2 separate regions of the Homo sapiens genome follow, and region 1 is linked to region 2. Evidence: fine-mapped expression QTL. A gene starts in region 2. The other region holds a variant in brackets. All regions are shown on one strand. Distances are from middle to middle.

What was found. PIP is the estimated chance that this variant, and not a neighbour inherited with it, causes the effect.
Region 1: its variant is fine-mapped to the expression of CLSTN3 in whole blood (TOPMed, PIP above 0.99).

What each region holds. Positions count from the first base shown.
Region 1 is chr12:7,091,963-7,099,962 of GRCh38, reverse strand. It overlaps C1R (complement C1r), which reads left to right and starts at 7,518. Exons shown (of 11, transcript NM_001733.7): 1 at 7,518-7,576. The coding sequence starts at 7,575. It overlaps C1RL (complement C1r subcomponent like), which reads left to right. Exons shown (of 6, transcript NM_016546.4): 4 at 1-62; 5 at 203-277; 6 at 2,800-5,409. The coding sequence ends at 3,572. RefSeq lists an enhancer at 7,176-7,470. The variant G/AG (reference allele first, on the strand shown) is at 4,843.
Region 2 is chr12:7,125,689-7,136,017 of GRCh38, reverse strand. It overlaps CLSTN3 (calsyntenin 3), which reads right to left and starts at 5,647. Exons shown (of 18, transcript NM_014718.4): 1 at 5,306-5,647; 2 at 2,872-2,994; 3 at 2,250-2,445; 4 at 483-691; 5 at 65-214. The coding sequence starts at 5,369. RBP5 (retinol binding protein 5) reads left to right here and starts at 7,129. Exons shown (of 4, transcript NM_031491.4): 1 at 7,129-7,315; 2 at 7,600-7,778. The coding sequence starts at 7,243. RefSeq lists silencers at 4,631-4,700, 5,791-5,890 and an enhancer at 4,848-5,349.

The DNA of each region.
Region 1 (8,000 bases), 35 kb after region 2:
AGACAACCCTGCCAAGGTCCAGAACCACTGCCAGGAGCCCTATTATCAGGCCGCGGCAGCAGGTGAGTCCCCACCTGCCGAGGGGTGGCTTCCATCCACCTCATTCCCACCCAAATGCCTGACACCCTCTGAGCACCTGCTTCGTTAACCAACAGCTTCAACTCCGAGCCTATTTCTTTGCCTCTCCTCATTTACGCCACAGGGGCACTCACCTGTGCAACCCCAGGGACCTGGAAAGACAGACAGGATGGGGAGGAGGTTCTTCAGTGTATGCCTGGTGAGTAGCCACCTGCTAGCACCATTCCCCCAACAAGCCTCAGCTGCAACTGGGACCTACAGGACACAGGGGTTAAAGGAAAGCCTTAGAATAGAAAGGAAGATAAGAAGCAGAAGGTGAGGAAGAACAGGGCAATCAAGAAGGCCCAGAAAAGAACAGGCAGGGAGCTTGTTCCTCATTCTTCAGGGGTCAAGATATATCTGAGGAAAAGCATGAAGGACGTTCATGAGATGGACTAGAAAAGGAGGAAGAGAGACCAACAAGCTGAAGTAACAGAAAACCCTCTTTTTGTGCCATACATTTTAAGGATATACCGACAGGCTCTCTATTCCTAAAATATCTCCCTACCTAGATGCCACACAGTGCCAGACAGTCAACCATTTTAAAAAAAATTATTGAGATAAAATTCATGGCTGGGCGCAGTGGCTCACTTTTTTTTTTTTTTTTTTTTTTTTTTTTTGGGATGGAGTTTCTCTCTTGTCGCCCAGACTGAAGTGCAACGGCACAATCTTGGTTCACTGCAACCTCCATCTCCTGGGTTCAAGCGATTCTCCTGCCTCAGCCTCCTGAGTAGCTGGGATTACAGGCACCTGCCACTATGCCCAGCTCATTTTTTTATTTTATTTTATTTTTTTTTTTTTTTTGTATTTTTAGTAGAGACAGGGTTTCACCACGTTGGTCAGGCTGGTCTTGAACTCCTGACCTCAGGTGATCGTCCCGCCTCAGCCTCCCAAAGTGCTGGGATTACAGGCTTGGGCCACTGCGCCCAGCCTTAACCACTTTAAACAGTACAATCCAGTAATGTTTAGTGTGTTCACAATGTTGTGAAACCATTACCACTAATTCCAGAACATTTCCATTACCTTCCCCAAAACAGCCCAGTACCTCCAACTCTCCCCTGACAACCACTAATCTTCTATCTCTATGGATTTGCCTTTATGGATTTTATATCAGTGGAATCATATAATGTGTGGCCATTTCTGTCTGGCTTCTTTCAGTTAGCGTAATGTTTTCAAGGTTCATTCCTGTTATAGCATCCATCAGTATTTCATTTTTATGGCTAAATAATACTCCTTTCTATGGATACGCCATTTTGTTTATTCATTCAACTGATGGACATTTGGGTTGTCTCTATTTCTTGCCTATTATGAATGATGCTGCTATGAGCATTTGTGTACAAGTTTTTATATCAACGTACGTTTCTAAATCTCCTGGGTATATACCTAGCAGTAGACTTGCTGGATTGTATAATAATTCTGTTTAACTTTTTGAGGAACCACCAAACTGTCTTCAACAGCAGCAGCACCAAGTTACATCTCACCGGCAATACATGAGGGTTCAAGCCCACCATTTTTGAGATCCACGCTTTTGAATGAAAGCATTGCCTTCTTTTGTTTTGTTTGTTTGTTTGTTTTGAGACAGAGTCTCGCTCTGTCGCCCAGGCTGGAGTGCAGTGGCGCGATCTCGGTTCACTGCAAGCTCCGCCTCCCGGGTTCAAGCCATTCTCCTGCCTCAGCCTCCCGAATAGCTGGGACTACAGGCGCCCGCCACCACGGCCGGCTAATTTTTTTTTGTATTTTTTAGTAGAGACGGGGTTTCACCGGGTTAGCCAGGATGGTCTCGATCTCCTGACCTCGTGATCCGCCCATCTCGGCCTCCCAGAGTGCTGGGATTACAGGCGTGAGCCACCGCGCCCGGCCGAAAGCATTGCCTTCTTAACCCAATCTGATCCACGGAAAACTCTAAGGGTAGCCTGAACACTCGCAGTGCTTTGGGGATGGTTTGGAGGGCAGGTGGTAGTGGGAGATGTTACAAATGAGGAAGTGACACAAAACTGAGGCAGGAGGCACTGAAACAGACTCTGCCTGTAGTATGGGGGCCCAGGATGGTCCAAACGAATGGCTTTAATGCCTCTGAGGAGGCAGGAAGGAGAGCCCTGCAGAACCAGCCCCAAACATGTGCTCATCTGTGCTCCCTACCCTCAGTCCACTGTCCTGAGTCCCATGCAGGATGGGTGCCCCGTACACTTGGCATTGATTACCTGTCCTTGTCTGCCCACATGGTCTACACCGTGGGTCTGCATCAGTATAAGAGTCCTGATCCCGGCCAGGCGCGGTGCCTCACGCCTGTAATCCCAGCACTTTGGGAGGCAGAGGCGGGTGGAACACTGAGGTCAGGAGTTTCAGACCAGCCTGGCCCACATGATGAAACCCCGTCTCTACTAAAAAATACACAAAAATTAGCCGGGCGTAGTGGTCGGTGCCTGTAATCCCAGCTACTCGGGAGGCTGAGGCAGAATTGCTTGAGCGCAGGAGGCGGAGGTTGCAGTGAGCCGAGATCGCGCAAGTACGCTCCAGTCTGGGCAACAAGAGCGAAACTCGATATCAAAAAAAAAAAAAAAACGTCCTGATCCCAGAGTCTCTTCACGCGTCCCCTACCACAGCACTTCAGAGAAGCAGGTCTTTAATCAGTGTGTCTAGATGCAGCTGCTGACTGTCACCCCTACCCCGCCTCTCTCCCAGTCTGCGGACGGCCAGTCACCCCCATTGCCCAGAATCAGACGACCCTCGGTTCTTCCAGAGCCAAGCTGGGCAACTTCCCCTGGCAAGCCTTCACCAGTATCCACGGCCGTGGGGGCGGGGCCCTGCTGGGGGACAGATGGATCCTCACTGCTGCCCACACCATCTACCCCAAGGACAGTGTTTCTCTCAGGAAGAACCAGAGTGTGAATGTGTTCTTGGGCCACACAGCCATAGATGAGATGCTGAAACTGGGGAACCACCCTGTCCACCGTGTCGTTGTGCACCCCGACTACCGTCAGAATGAGTCCCATAACTTTAGCGGGGACATCGCCCTCCTGGAGCTGCAGCACAGCATCCCCCTGGGCCCCAACGTCCTCCCGGTCTGTCTGCCCGATAATGAGACCCTCTACCGCAGCGGCTTGTTGGGCTACGTCAGTGGGTTTGGCATGGAGATGGGCTGGCTAACTACTGAGCTGAAGTACTCGAGGCTGCCTGTAGCTCCCAGGGAGGCCTGCAACGCCTGGCTCCAAAAGAGACAGAGACCCGAGGTGTTTTCTGACAATATGTTCTGTGTTGGGGATGAGACGCAAAGGCACAGTGTCTGCCAGGGGGACAGTGGCAGCGTCTATGTGGTATGGGACAATCATGCCCATCACTGGGTGGCCACGGGCATTGTGTCCTGGGGCATAGGGTGTGGCGAAGGGTATGACTTCTACACCAAGGTGCTCAGCTATGTGGACTGGATCAAGGGAGTGATGAATGGCAAGAATTGACCCTGGGGGCTTGAACAGGGACTGACCAGCACAGTGGAGGCCCCAGGCAACAGAGGGCCTGGAGTGAGGACTGAACACTGGGGTAGGGGTTGGGGGTGGGGGGTTGGGGGAGGCAGGGAAATCCTATTCACATCACTGTTGCACCAAGCCACTGCAAGAGAAACCCCCACCCGGCAAGCCCGCCCCATCCCAGACAGGAAGCAGAGTCCCACAGACCGCTCCTCCTCACCCTCTACCTCCCTGTGCTCATGCACTAGGCCCCGGGAAGCCTGTACATCTCAACAACTTTCGCCTTGAATGTCCTTAGAACCGCCTTCCCCTACTTCATCTGTTGACACAGCTTTTATACTCACCTGTGGAAGAGTCAGCTACTCACCCGCTATTAGAGTATGGAGGAAGGGGTTTTCATTGCATTGCATTTCTGAAACATTCCTAAGACCCTTTAGTTGACCTTCAAATATTCAAGCTATTCTGCAGCTCCAAGATGCAATTATAGAAACAGCTCCTTTTTTATTTTATGTCCTCTATATGCCAGGTGCTTCACCTGTTATTTCACTTAATCCTCATACCATATTTGCAAAGGATGTGTTATTATCTATGTGTGACAAATGAGGAAACTGAGGCTCAGGGGATAAAGGGACTTGCCCAAGTCCCACAGCTGGTGTGTGACTGCAGAGACTGTGCTCTTCCCAGTGTGCTGCAATACTTCTCAACCCTCCTCTAACCTGCTGTGTCACCCGCTTTCCCTCCCAGCCCCCACATCCTTACCATTTTCCCTCCCTGGGAATTCCTGCTTCTGCGAAAATGGTATCCTCTAGCTCACACTTTCCTAATGGCCCCATCTCCTGCAGAAGCCAGGTGAGCCCAGCACTGGACTGAAGTTCTTGCAGACACCCCACCTGTGCCCCTATCATCAGGGGAACTGCTCCACCTGAGAGGACCAACTCTTTAATTTTTAGTAAAACCTGGAGGTGATGGGCCGGGCGCAGTGGCTCACGCCTGTAATCCCAACACCTTAGGAGTCCGAGGTGGGTGGATCACGAGGTCAGGAGATCCAGCCCATCCTGGCCAACATGGTGAAACCCCATCTCTACTAAAAATACAAAAATTAGCCGGGCGTGGTGACACGTGCCTGTAGTCCCAGCTACTCGGGAGGCTGAGGCAGGAGAATCACTTGAACCTGGGAGGCGGAGGTTGCAGTGAGCTAAGATCACGCCACTGCACTCCAGCCTGCGGACAGACCAAGACTTCATCCCCCCCAAAAAAAAAA[G/AG]ATTGGAGGTGATTTACAGTGAAAGACACAAATAAAATACAACTGTTCAATGGAAATAGAAAATAAACACCATAAAAGAGAGAAGAGAGGTAATTTGTTAGCATCAAGAGTCAAGTTGCTATATGGTCAAAGGTTAAATTTATCTCTAAAAAATGGCAGGATTCAAAGTTGTACATACATGTGATTACTTCTGTTTTTTACACCCACATACAGTACAAAAGATTATTAAAAATATTCCCAAAAGGCAGGTGCAATGATGCACACTTATACCCCCAGCCACTCAGGAGGCTGATGCAAGAGGATCGCTTGAGCCCAGGAGTTGAAGTCCAGCCTAAGCAACATAGTGAAACCCCATCGCCAAAAATATAATAATAATTCTCTCAAAATACTAAACAGAGGTGGTTTTATTGATAAGATTTTGGCTGTTTGGTTTTCCACTATTCTCTATTGGCTAAAATTTGTTTAATGAGCATGAAATGTTTTTATTTTATTTTGCTTATTTTTATGATTGCAAAAAATGATATGAGTTTCTCCCTGCCAAGGCAAAAAAATATATATATACCTATATTTATATGTGTATGTCTAGATCTATATCTCTACATCTCCATCGCTGTCTCTGTCTAGAGATAGAGATATCGACAATGAGAGAGAGAGGGAGGTAAGAGATAGAGATGATGGAGATAGATGAGCTAGCGATAGAGACATATCCACAGAGGAAAACCTACCACTACTTTAAGAGAGAAATCTTTTTCCCAAGAATCAAATCCTTAAAGGAACAAACACTGTAACCGACTATATCCTCAATAATTGTTTTAAAACAAACGCAGCAGCATTTCATATGGCATTTTTTTCCTTCTTGGTATGAGTCAAGGACAAAACAAAGTCAAGGACATAACAAAAATGTGTGAGTAAAGGTTATTTTGAATGGTTGGGCAGAGTGGAGACAGGGCTGGGACTGAGCTAATGACATCCAGGTTTGCCGCTCTCCAAGCGTGTTGCACAATGCCAACGCAGAACTGAGAATCCCTAGGATGGACGGAAGAGCTTCAGCTAAGACTTACCTCCTTACCTGTTCCCTCTGCCTCCATTATGAACATACGGCACATGCGCGCGTGCACACACACACACACACACAAACTGCTGCTAGGATATTAATGTGCAGTTTGTTAGACGAGATTCCCCTTCCTTCTCGTCCTCTGATCTGGTGCTTTTCCTTCTCCCCCATCTTTTGTCTTTCCTGATCTAACAAGGCTGTGGATCATATGCTGATCCCATCACAGACCAGCCCTCCGTTAGGTTCAGTCCTCAGCTCTGACACACAGGCCTGCTGGAGAAACCCTCCAAGCGTTGGTGGATCTTGCACCTTCTGTGTGCCTGCTGTCTAACTACTGATGATGTGGTCACTGCCTGATGGGGAACTGCATCAGCTCTGTGAATTCTTGCAATCTATTGCCTGGGAAAGTGTCTTGCACATTAAACAGGTAGCCCATAAATGGATGAACGGGGGTGGGGGCAGAAGGGTGGAGGTTGGAGGGATTCATCTAATAAGGGAAACAAGCAGAACAGCCTACAAAGGCTTAAGAACGCAGAGTCCTGCTCTGCAGCCCAAGCCCCTCCGTGGGATGAAGTGCCATCAGATATTTGGTGCCATGGAGAGTTGATGAAGAAAGCCTTCCAAAAACAATGAAATTGTTTTTTAATTTATTTTAACTTTTAGAGACGAGATCTCACTATGTTGCCCAGGCTGGTTTCGAACTCCTGGGCTCAAGAGATCTTCCCACCCTGGCCTCGAAAAGTGCTGGCATCACAGGCATGAGCCACCACACGTGGCCAAGAGCAAAAGTTTTAAAGCAGGACACTATGGCCTGATGGACAGGAGAGACTAGGGTCCCTCCTCCCTCCCAGGGGCCTGGCTTCATCTCAGAAAAACCGAGTCCCTCTTGCTCCACACCCGCATCCTTAGCTTCAGCCCTGGCAGTTGTGTTGAGCAGATGCTAAGGAGATGGGGACATTTTACCCCCTCCGCAGCCGCCCCAGAGGGTCTCAAACCCAGGGCTGATTTAGGGTTGCCCTGACATGGCCAACCCTATTCTATGTCCAAGTGTCATTCATGGCTAAAGCAGGCCAGGGCCCCAAGGCAACCAAGCTCCTCTCTCCTCTGCCCGCTCCCACACACCCTCCTCTGCCCCAGTGTTCCTATCATTACGTCCTGGGCATTGAAACCCGGGCCATTCTTGGACCAGGGCTGTGGGCTGAATGAGGGCAGGAAGAACAGGGTCAATGGGAAAGGACAGCCCAGAAAAGAGAATTCACCACCACCTGTGGTCTCCCACTGCTTTGGTAGGAACCTTGTAAACACAGCAGCAGCCCCCAGGAAAGTCTTGGAAGAAGGGAGAAGCTGATCAGATTTAGAGACTGAGACATCTGGGCCTCCAACCCAAGGCTCCCCGGGCCCTAAAAAGCCAGACTCCCGTCTCCTTAGCCCTTTCCCTCACCGACCAGCAGGTGGCACCACAAACAGGGATTTCAAAACCAAAACTAAATTAAAGTGGAAACTCAGATCTTTTGTTTATGCAAATAGTTCATTCCCTCCAACATTCCTCCGGGAATGGTCCCCCCTCCACTCCACAGAAAACCCTCCCCTCCCTGCTGTGCATGACGCGGGCTCCCTCTGCACACAGTGCACGAAGACGCTGTCGGGAGAGCCCAGGATTCAACACGGGCCTTGAGAAATGTGAGTAAGGGTGATGGGCAACCAGGTGGGAGGGAGAAGCCAGGGGAGAAGCCAGGGCATGGGAGGCAATTCAGGGAGACAGGAACACCCTTCTCTCTTCACACACCTCATCAGTTCCACTGTGCACACGCGTGGACACACACAACACACGCCCCATCCCTCCTCCTAGGGATCAGAGGAGACTTCATACATAGATGCTCATGCCATGGTCCTTTCTTCCCTCTGGGCTCTTGGCAGGGAGCAGCGAGAGGAGGGGACCCCTTGCCCAGGACGGGACACTCTGTGCCTGTGTCCCCCACTCCACAGATGGTTTCTCCCAGACGCTCTTGCTGAACCTGTGGGAGCCCTTTCAGAGACCCACGGGTGGAAACCCTCACCCTCCATTAACTGGTCCCAAGCCAGTCCTATTCCTGGAAGGGGAGGG
Region 2 (10,329 bases):
GGACAGAAAGAGAGACCAAGAAAAAAGATGATTCACAAGATGGGGCACAGCGCTGAGCTCTCACCTTGCCAGCTGGGTTTACAGGTGGGCTTCACCTGAATCTCCACCTCAGCATCATCTGCTGCCCGCTTCTTCCCACAGTCATAAGCTGTCACTGTAAACTTATAGAGCCTCTCACCACTGTACTGCAGCTTCTCTGTGTTCTCAATGTTCCCTGGGGTGGGGTCAGGAGGACAGAGCATTAGAGCATTGGAGAAAGCCCAGGGCAGGGAGGGGAGGATGTCTGAGATCATCGGGCAGCAGGCAGGTTAGGCAGCAGGACGCTGGGAAAAAAGGCATCTGGGAGGAGAAGGCTCCATTTGGGAAGAAGGGTGAGGTGAGGGTCTGAGGGGCAAAAGTGGAGAATGCAACCCTGGGTTGTCCTGAGGGAGGTGGGTGCTCAAGGGGAACTGGGTGGCCAGGGAAGCCAGGGGTGGACTCACCGTCATTGTCAATGAGGAAAGGGGTGTTGGGTGTGAGAATCTCATAGTAGCAGATCTGGCTGTACTGGGGGGAGCAGTCACCGTCAATGGCTTCCACCCGCAGGATGCGATCGTACAGCTTCCCCTCTGTCACAGCCGCACGATACAGCCGTTCCACAAACACTGGGGCAAACTCGTTCACATCGTTGACCCGCACATGCACAGTGGCCCTGCATATGCCAGAGAGAAGGAGGGATGAAGACACGTCAGCCAGCCTCGACATTATACATTGAGATACAGCCTTGATACAGCACACCGAGGTACAGCCTCGATACGGTACATCAAGATACAGCCTTGATACGGCACATGGAGGGACAGGTTCGATACCGTACACCAAGATACAGCCTCAATACTGTACACCAACAAACAGCCTCAATATGGGCACAACGAGATACAGCCTTATACTGTACACCAAGGTACAGCCTCGACACGGTACACCCATATGCCAGAAAGGAGCAAGCAGGAATCCCGACGGAGAGCCAGAACAGGAGGGAGCCTGCCCATCTATCCCTGAGACTGAGGCAGTCAGCACGCTCCTCCCCACCCCACAGGGCACCAAGCTGCATCAAAGTCATGCCAGGGAGAGGACAACACCAGAGGGAGGGCCCAAAGAAAGGAGGACTGATGTAGGGGATGAGGAACAAGGCCCAGGGGTGCTCAGGAGCTGATTTTGATGACTTCTGTGCAAAATGCTATGGGTCAGGGTGCCAAGAGGAGGGGTAAGGCATAAAATCCAGCAGGGCCTTCCTTCACAACAGTCAGATCCGGGGGGATAAGCAAGGAAGATGCAGAGTAAAAGCCAAATTAAAACCAGCCATAAGAAGGGAAATGGCATGTGTACAAAGGTCACAAGTCATCTGACATGTCTGCACAGTACGTGTGGGCAGTGCTGCCTCCCGCACATGCGGCCCCTCCCTAGTCATGCACCGGGGCAAGCAGAGCTGGGTCGAGGCCCTTCATGCTGAGCCCTGCCCCAGGCCAAGACCCAGGCTCCCAGGCCCCAGAGGCAAGGGTCCTATCTTCAAATGGGAAACTGAGTCACAAAGAGCATTTTATCTCTAGTGCCTCTTAGTGGCTCAGGAATCCTGACTGAAGATCTTTCTCTTATTCTCAAATAAGAAGTTAGCTGGCAACAAGCGTAGGTGTCCCAGACCCGAGCCTCTTTCTTGCTACAACCATCGCCTGCCCACCCTCACCTAGAGCTATATGTGTATGATAGGGATCGTGTGTGTGGTATACACTGCAAATAGACTGGAGGGGGCAGTTGAAAGGGAACTGGATGCATGCTGAGTGTGTTCATCCTCTTCCTTCTTGCTCTCCTCCTCATCATTATGCCCATGTACTGTGCCCTTCAACGTGTATCAGGCACTGTGGTGCATGCTTTCAACACAAACCATCTCCTTGAATCTTCACAGCAGCCTTATGAAGTAGGTGTCATCACAATCTCCATTCTACAGATAAGGAAAAGCAAGTCCAGAAAGGCTAGGCTGCCCAAGGTCATGAGAGGCAAAGCCAAGATTAGATCCACTGAACTCTACTATACGTTTCTGTCACCTTGCCTGAAAGTCCCTAAATCCTAGGAACAGCAGGGGATGGGGCTCCCTAAGTCCTAGGAACAGCAGCGGGTGGGGGTGGATATTCGATGACCGCACGGACAGAGGATGGTGGGCTTGGGAGCAGGGAGGAGGACCCTGCAACACATGGGGCAGGAGACAAGGACTTCCTCACTTGTGGGACTTCTTGGTGTTGGCCCCGTCGGGGCCCTCGCCACAGTCATAGGCCTGGATGGTGAAGGTGTGTTCCTTCTGGGCCTCGCAGTCCACAGGCTCCTTGGCCCGGATCAGCCCCTCTCCTGTCGCCTTGTCAAGGATCACAGCCTCAAAGGGCACCCCAGACCCATGGAGCCGGAAGCCGCAGATCTCACCTGGCAAAGGGGAGAAGGGGAGGAGTGAGGCTGCTGTGTCTCCTTCCCCACCCTCAGTCTCCCCACCTGGGGTCCAGCTCCACCTCTCCTCCCAAAGCCCTGTCCCTTCTCCTGTAGGCACAAAAGCATTAATGATCAAACACGCAACTCTAAGCCCAGCTTCCCTGAGCAGCAACCTCCCAGAGCCTCCAGACCTGAGATCTGACAAAATCATGATGTGTTTAACCCTTGCCTGGCCATGTCCTTTTCTGGCATCCTTGACTCAATCTCCATTCTTCAGTGGAGACCATTCCCCTCCTTGAGCCCACTTTTATCTTCCCTTACTTTCTCATCACTCCCAGGACCTTCCCTCCCTCCCTTGCTCTTGGCCCTCCCACCCACTTTTCTCTGTCCTACCCTGCCTTGCCATCCCCCAATCCCAATTACCTGCATAGCGCAGCGGGGCATCCTTGTCCAAGGCAAAGAGTGGTGGATTCAGTAGGACCGTGTTGTCATTCTCCATGACGATGCCCTGGTACTCTGCCTCAATCCATGGCTTGTGCTTGTTGGCTGGCCCCACCCCAGGGAGAGGAGAGGAAGCACCTGTGAGCAGGGCCTCTACTCCCACAACAACCCTTGTTGACCCAGACAACTCACACCCCAGCACCATCACCTTTTCCACCCCCTATAGGAGCACCTTACAGGAGGCGGGTGGTTGAGGACAAGAAATCAGCTACTAAAGGAGTCAGAGGGTCTGCGGGAGGTCATAGCCTTCTCCTATAGCAGGGTAGACAGTTCCCATGGAAACAACCTGCCCTGGGGGTGAAGAGGAGGGGATCACTATCTCCATGGGAACCATGGTCAGGAAGTGGAGAATGTTCTTTAGCGATTTCACGTGCTAGAGAATGGAGACAGGGAACTTCAGGGAGCAGTGGTGGGCTGTGAGAAGGCCCTGGGAAAGGGAAGGGATAGATTAAGGGCAGAATTGAAACTAGAAAAAGATCTAGAAGTTTCCTGAGATCCTGATTGCTTATCCTCCTCCCAACTCATTTCAGTCCTGATCCCTTCACTCTGCACTTCTCCCAGCCAAGCCCCAACTTGAGGCCACTCTCCCAGAACACAGGATGGGGAGAAAGGAGAGAAGTGAAGATATATAGGACAGAGGGAGGGGGCAGAGAGGGGCAGGAATGGAGCAGAGGAATCAATGCTGAGCAACTGGACCCAGCAGAGCCGTCATCCTAAGGGATTATCGGGCTGGCCTAGAAACATGACAAATCCCGTCCCTGCTTCCCACCCCCACACCCAAGAGAACACATTCGAAACCGACACATTTCTATGTCCTCCACAAGACCATCAAACCACATTCCCTGAAACCCACTTTTTATACAGAACTCAATCCCAGTTCTTATCTACCCCATCCCTCTTCCCTTCAACCACCAGCCAATTCAGAATGGATGCGGGACTCATCAGACTCCAAATCTCCCCATCTTCTACCAGATTCAGCCTGGTGAGGGGCTGTGGGGAAGCATATTTCCTCCCCTTCCACATCACCCCCCACCCCAGCCTCCACGCTTGCTCTAATCCCATCATCATGCCAACACCCAGGCTCCCAAAGCACAATCATGAGGCAGAGGGAAACTGAGTCACCAAAAGGAACCTCATCCCCAGTATCTCACGGTGAGCAAGAAACCCTGATTTCCATTCTTTCCTCCAACCACACACCAGCAAGCCTTTGGCATGGGAAGGCTTTCTTACTGATGACCACCATAACCCCTTCCTGAATGCTGAGGAGAAAGCCACAAGATGGTGCACAGGAGGCGGTACAGGAAGTGGCAGGAGGCTAGGAGGCGAGGCTGAGGTCAGAGATGCAGGCAAGGAAGAGAGAGCGGTGGAAGGGCAGGGCTGGGCGCCCTCTGCACAGCTCCCCCTCCCACCCTGCTTGTCTTCCCAGGTCTCTGAGCCTCTGTCTCCTCTCCTCCTGGCCCCCTGCGGTCTCTGCGTTTGCTCCCTTTCACTCCTAGGCTCCCGGGCTCCTCCTTGACTCACTCTTTTCCTGATTTTCCTCATTCCTCCCTCTTTTTTCTGCCTCCACCTTTACCCTTTTCCATCCCCTCCTTACCCCCTCCCACGCCTCATCTCCGGTCTTCTCCTTCTCAGCTTTCCCTCTCATACTCATTTAGCGCCCCCCACACACCCACTTCTGCCCTTTCCTGCCAGTCTCCATCCGTTTCCACCTACCTGAGCCCTCTGCCCGCAAGCCCTCCCTCCCGTCCTCCCTCTCCGTCTGTCCGACAGCCCCGCCCAGCTGAATGTATCCGCTGTCTGCCAGAGAGGGCAGCTCTGGTAACCCACAGCCCAGCTGATGCAGGCAAAAGGGTCTGAATGCAGAGGCACACGCAAAAAACATACGTGCTCCGAATTGCTGAACTGCAGCAAATACTTTCTCCCCAGGATGGGATGGAGGCGAAGCAGATGGATCTGCCACACACCCTTAGCATGCGCCAGTGAAAGGGAGAGCCGCGGGGAGAGGCCTATCACCGGCTCGGGGGCAGTCCTTCCCAGACCCGAGGTAGCCACCAGCGTGTAGAAATTAGGGGAAGGGGAGAATAGAGACCCCAGGACGGGAATGGAGACCAAATGGGAGCAAGATGACCAGCAAGAGAAACGCATGGGTAGAGATGGACCAGAAAGGAAGATGTAGCTGGGGGAAGAGAAAGAGAGGAGACGGAGCAGGTCTGAGAACGGATGGGAAGGAGGGTGATCAGAAGAGGGCCAGACACCTGTCAGGTGCCAGGGAGCCTCGACACCTCCTTCCCACCCCCACCCCGCACGGCGCTGCCCGACGCCCCTCTTTCGGTACCCCCACCCCCACCTCACTCACCTTTGTTACAGGAGCAGGACGCGAGCAGAGAGGCCAGCAGAAGGGGCAGCAGCAGGAGGGTCATGGTGCGGCGTGGGGCAGGGCAGGGCCAGGCGTTTGCCTCCCCTGGGAGCCTCCAGCCTGCGGATTCCACCTTGCGGGAGGGATACAGGGGGTCTCCAAGGAGCGGGGTACAGCAGGGCAGGGACGGAAAGGAGCCTGCCGCCCACACTAGTCCATAAAGCGGGCCTGGGCAGATCCCAATCTGGGTAGCTGAGGCGGTGGACTTGCAGCGGCTTCCCGTTTCCCCCAGCCCAGCGTCCTCACTCTCTCACTCCCACCCCAACCCCGCTACTGCAGGATGACGTCAGCACAGCCGGGCAACGATTGATGGGGCCGCCGGCCAATCAGGTGACTGGGAGGGGGGGGGACCAGGTGCTGCAGCGGGGGAGGGAGCCAATGAGACTGGGGCGTCGGGGCTGGAGAGTTTCAAGGCTCCTTCCCCTGGCTGCAATTTTGGGGGAGCCGAGGAACTGCGGGGGCTGGGGAGGAAGCTGGAGAGCCACGGAGGGGGTGGGAAAGAAGAGGGACGTGGGGAGAAAGAAGCCAGAAGCCAGGGGGTGGGGAAGAGAGACGTCAGCGGGACCTGAGGGCGGCCAGGAGGGGTGGCACCGCGTCACCCCGCCCCCCAACTCTGCCATAACCTGTTTCCACAGCCCCTTCCATCCACAGATCCGTGCTGCGTGCCCTCTGGGAAGGGTGAAGTAAAACCCTCAGTCTGAGCCTGAGAAATCCTGGCATTTGTAGCCCAGGGCTGCGAGGAAGCCACAGGGCGGTCCGCAGGGCGGTATCGAGGCTCTGGGACCCAAGGAGGGGCAGGACGTCGTGCACCCCTCGCGCACGCACCTGTCGGGACCGGCCGCCTCCTCCTGCCTACCTGTCCTGCCTCCTTCGCCCCGAATTTCACCTTAAACCATGATGAACCAAGCCCAGTGGATTCTGAAGCCCGGGACGATGGCAGGTTCGAGAGAGAATTGGGCAGCTGGGGGCGGGGCACAATATTATTTAGGCGCCTCCACCCCACCTTCACAGAAATACATCTGGAAAGCATGGGCTGTCCTAGGGCTGGGGACTGGGGGTTACGGTCTCATCGATGACTCAGAGGGAGAGAAAACCCCCTGGGTCCCAAGCCAAAAAGAATAAAATTCTCCAGAATAGCCAACAAACTCCTCTCAGGCTGTCTGTTCCGGACTTTGAACTCAGCACCCCTCGGGCTCCACCTCCCTCCTAATGGCTCTTTAGGACCAAGAGTCTGGAATGCCACTTTGGGGTCCCAGTTGAGCACACTACCTGAGGGAGCTCTGAGAGCCAGGCCTACAGGGTGCTCTTCATGGTGGCAGCTGGCCATCCTCACCCCCTCCCCTCACATCTTCCAACATCACTCAGTCCCAGGATCTCAGGATATTGTTGGAACTCATCTCCACCTCACACAGCCAGACCAGCCTCAGGTGTCTCCCAGGAAAGACTGCCCCTCAGGCCCTGGGACGGTTCCCAAGCCTGCCAGAAATGAGGTGGAGGCCAACACTGACCTTTGGATGGCTGAGTTTTGGATGACTGACAGCCCCAGATCCTGCTCCAGGTTCCTTCCTCAGGAAGGATCCTGCTCCAGGTTCCTTCCTCAGGAAAAGCCAAGGTCAGGCGCAACTTTGCCAAATCCCTGCCCCTCCTTCAGGCTGGAGACACCACCCCCAAACTCACCATGCGGGGAGGGAAGAAGTCTGGTAGGGACTCTTATTGCAACAGGGCCCCAGCCTTATAAAAAGCCCTGGTAACCCGGCCATTACACATCCTGTCTCTGTGTGTGGAGCTGGCTGGAATCTCTCAGCCTCACCTGCCAGACAACACCCCCTCCTTCCTCACCCTGTCTCCTGCATTCTCCTGAAACCTTCATCCACACAATGCCTCCCAACCTCACTGGCTACTACCGCTTTGTCTCGCAGAAGAACATGGAGGACTACCTGCAAGCCCTAAGTAATGGCCTCGCCCTCCCAGACCCCTGTCACTCCCTTTCTCCCCTCTTCCTTCCTGCTTCTTGGTCCCATGGAGAAGAGGGAATGCCCGGGGTTGGACACTGTGGAAAGGCTCAGGCGGCTGGCACCAGACCTGGGATCCATTTCTAACCAGGCATTGGTAGGAGGGGGTGAATCCACAGTCCCAGACCCAAAGAAGGGAAACTCACAGCCCTGAGGGGCTGCTGCAGGCAGAGGAGCTCCTGGCTGGCTAGCAGCACCCCTACTAACAGGCAGCCCCCACAGACATCAGCTTGGCTGTGCGGAAGATCGCGCTGCTGCTGAAGCCGGACAAGGAGATCGAACACCAGGGCAACCACATGACGGTGAGGACGCTCAGCACCTTCCGAAACTACACTGTGCAGTTTGATGTGGGAGTGGAGTTTGAGGAGGACCTCAGGAGCGTGGACGGACGAAAATGCCAGGTACATTTCCCCTGGCTGGGCGGTGGCCGGAAGGAGGCATCACAGGAGACTCCTAACAACATGGGGCAAAACAAAGTGACCTTCCCCAGCCAGAGCAGCGGGGAGGAGGGGAATGGTCACCACAGCAGGGAATGCAGTCCCCAGGATACCAGTCTCCAGAACTAACAGGTCCTGGTGCTCCCTGTCTCTCTCCCACTTCTTCCCTGCCCCCTCTTATCACCAGCCCAAAGGGCAAAGAACAGGCCAACCCAGACCGAAGAGCAAACATTTGCCCACCCTCCAGCCTGTGACACTGTTGGTCACCCAGAGTCCCTTTTACTTTAGCATCAATAACTTCACTCTCCTGCATTTCTTTCTACTTCTTACATATTCCTTCTTAGCCTCCTTTGCAGATCCTAGTCCTCCTATTAATCCTTTAAACTGGAGTTTTCTCCGCAGAGTTTTGTTCTTAATGTCTTCTCCCTTTTGTCTGCCCACTATCCATAGGCTAAATCATCTACACCCATGCCTTCTGCTTCCATCTATAGGCTGCCCTTGGCATGAATTCTCCAGCCAGAGCCATCTCCTGAGCTCCAGGGCAATGTTTTCAACTGCCTACAAAATACAGTTGGCCCTCCATATTCATGGGTTCTGCATCCACAGCTTCAGCAAACTGCAAATGGAAAAATATTTGGGAAAAATAAAAATAAAAAATAACAATACAAAATGATACAAATAAAAAACAATACAGTATAGCAACTATTTACAGAGCATGTACATTGCATTAGGTATTATAAGTAATCTAGAGATGATTTAAAGCATATGGGAAAAGGCTGGGCGTGGTGGCTCACACCCATAATCCCAAGACTTTGGGAGGCTGAGGCAGGCAGATCACTTGAGGCCAGGAGTTCAAGACCAGCCTGGCCAACATGGTGAAACCTCATCTCTACTAAAAATACATAAATTAGGCCAGGTGCAGTGGCTCACACCTGTAATCCCAGTACTTTGGGAGGCCAAGGCGGGCGGATCACCTGAGGTCAAGAGTTCGAGACCAGCCTGACCAACATGGAGAAACCCCATCTCTACTAAAAATACAAAAAATTAGGCAGGCATGGTGGCGCATGCCTGTAATCCCAGCTACTCAGGAGGCTGAGGCAGAAGAATCACTTGAACCTGGGAGGCAGAGGTTGCAGTGAGCCAAGATCGCACCACTGCACTCCAGCCTGGGCAACAAGAGCGAAATTCTATCTCAAAAAAAAAAAAAAAAAAAAATACAAAAGTACAAAAATTAGCCGGGCATGGTGGCGCATGCCTGTAATCCCAGCTACTTGGGAGGCTGAGGCAGGAGAATTACTTGAACCCGGGAGCCAGAGGTTGCAGTGAGCCAAGATCATGCCATTGCATTCTAGTCTGGGTGACAGAGCAAGACTCTGTATCAAAATGATAATAATAAAGTACACAGGGGGATGTATGTAGTTTCTCTACAGATACTAAGCCATTTTATTCAGCAGATTTAGTGAGGTGGGGGTCCTGGAACCAATTTCCATTTGAATGCCAAGGTCAAATTCAAATTCACTGTCTTCCTATCCAAACCTACCCCACTTTTATATCTACTCTCTCCACTAATGGCAATAACCAGCCAGGCCAGAGACCTGGGAGTCATGGTCAATATCTCTTGTTTCCTTACCTCTAGGCTCCCAGCACACACACACACACACACACACACACACACACACACACACACACACACCACCACCACCACCACCACCACATCTAATCGGCCAAGAAATCTTTGTAGCTTTTCTGCATTACCCAGTATAGCAGCTGCTAACTTCAGATGGCCGTTGAATACTTGAAATATAACTAGTCCAAATCTAGATGCTGTAAGTGGACTTTCAGACAATGCCAAATAAAAAGAAGCATTTCGGAAATGTTTATATTGGCTGCATGCCGAAATAATAATATTTTGAATATTTTTGGTTAACTAAAATATATTATTTAAATTAATTTCCCCTATTTCTCTTTACTTTTCTAATATGGCTCCTGACCCATTTTATTTCTGTTGAGCATCACTCTTCTAAATGGCTCTCCTGTGTTCCCTCCTAACCTTTCTCTATCACCACCCTAATTCAGGCCTTCATTTCCTGGTGCCTGAAATTGCTTTTTTGTGTTTTTGTGTTTTTTTTTTTTTGGTAGAGGTGGGGTCTCACTGTGTTGCCCAGGCTGGTCTCAAACTCTTGACTTCAAGTGATTCTCCCGCCTCAGCCTCCCAAATGCTGAGATTACGGGCCTAAGCCACTGCACCCAGCTGGTTCTCACGCTTAACCCTCCTCTAATCTGCATGCTGTAGCCACAGGGTCTACTTAAAACATAAATGTGATCATGTCACTCTCTGACTTACACCCTTTCAGTGATGATCTATTACATTACATCATCTGTTACACTTAACTCAGCATACAAGGGTCTCTGTGAATCAACTCTTCAATTGCCTCCACCACATATACTCTAGGTTAGAGCCCTTCAGAACTAATTGCCTTTCTCTTTTACCGCTATTTCTAGCTGTTTCTTTCCT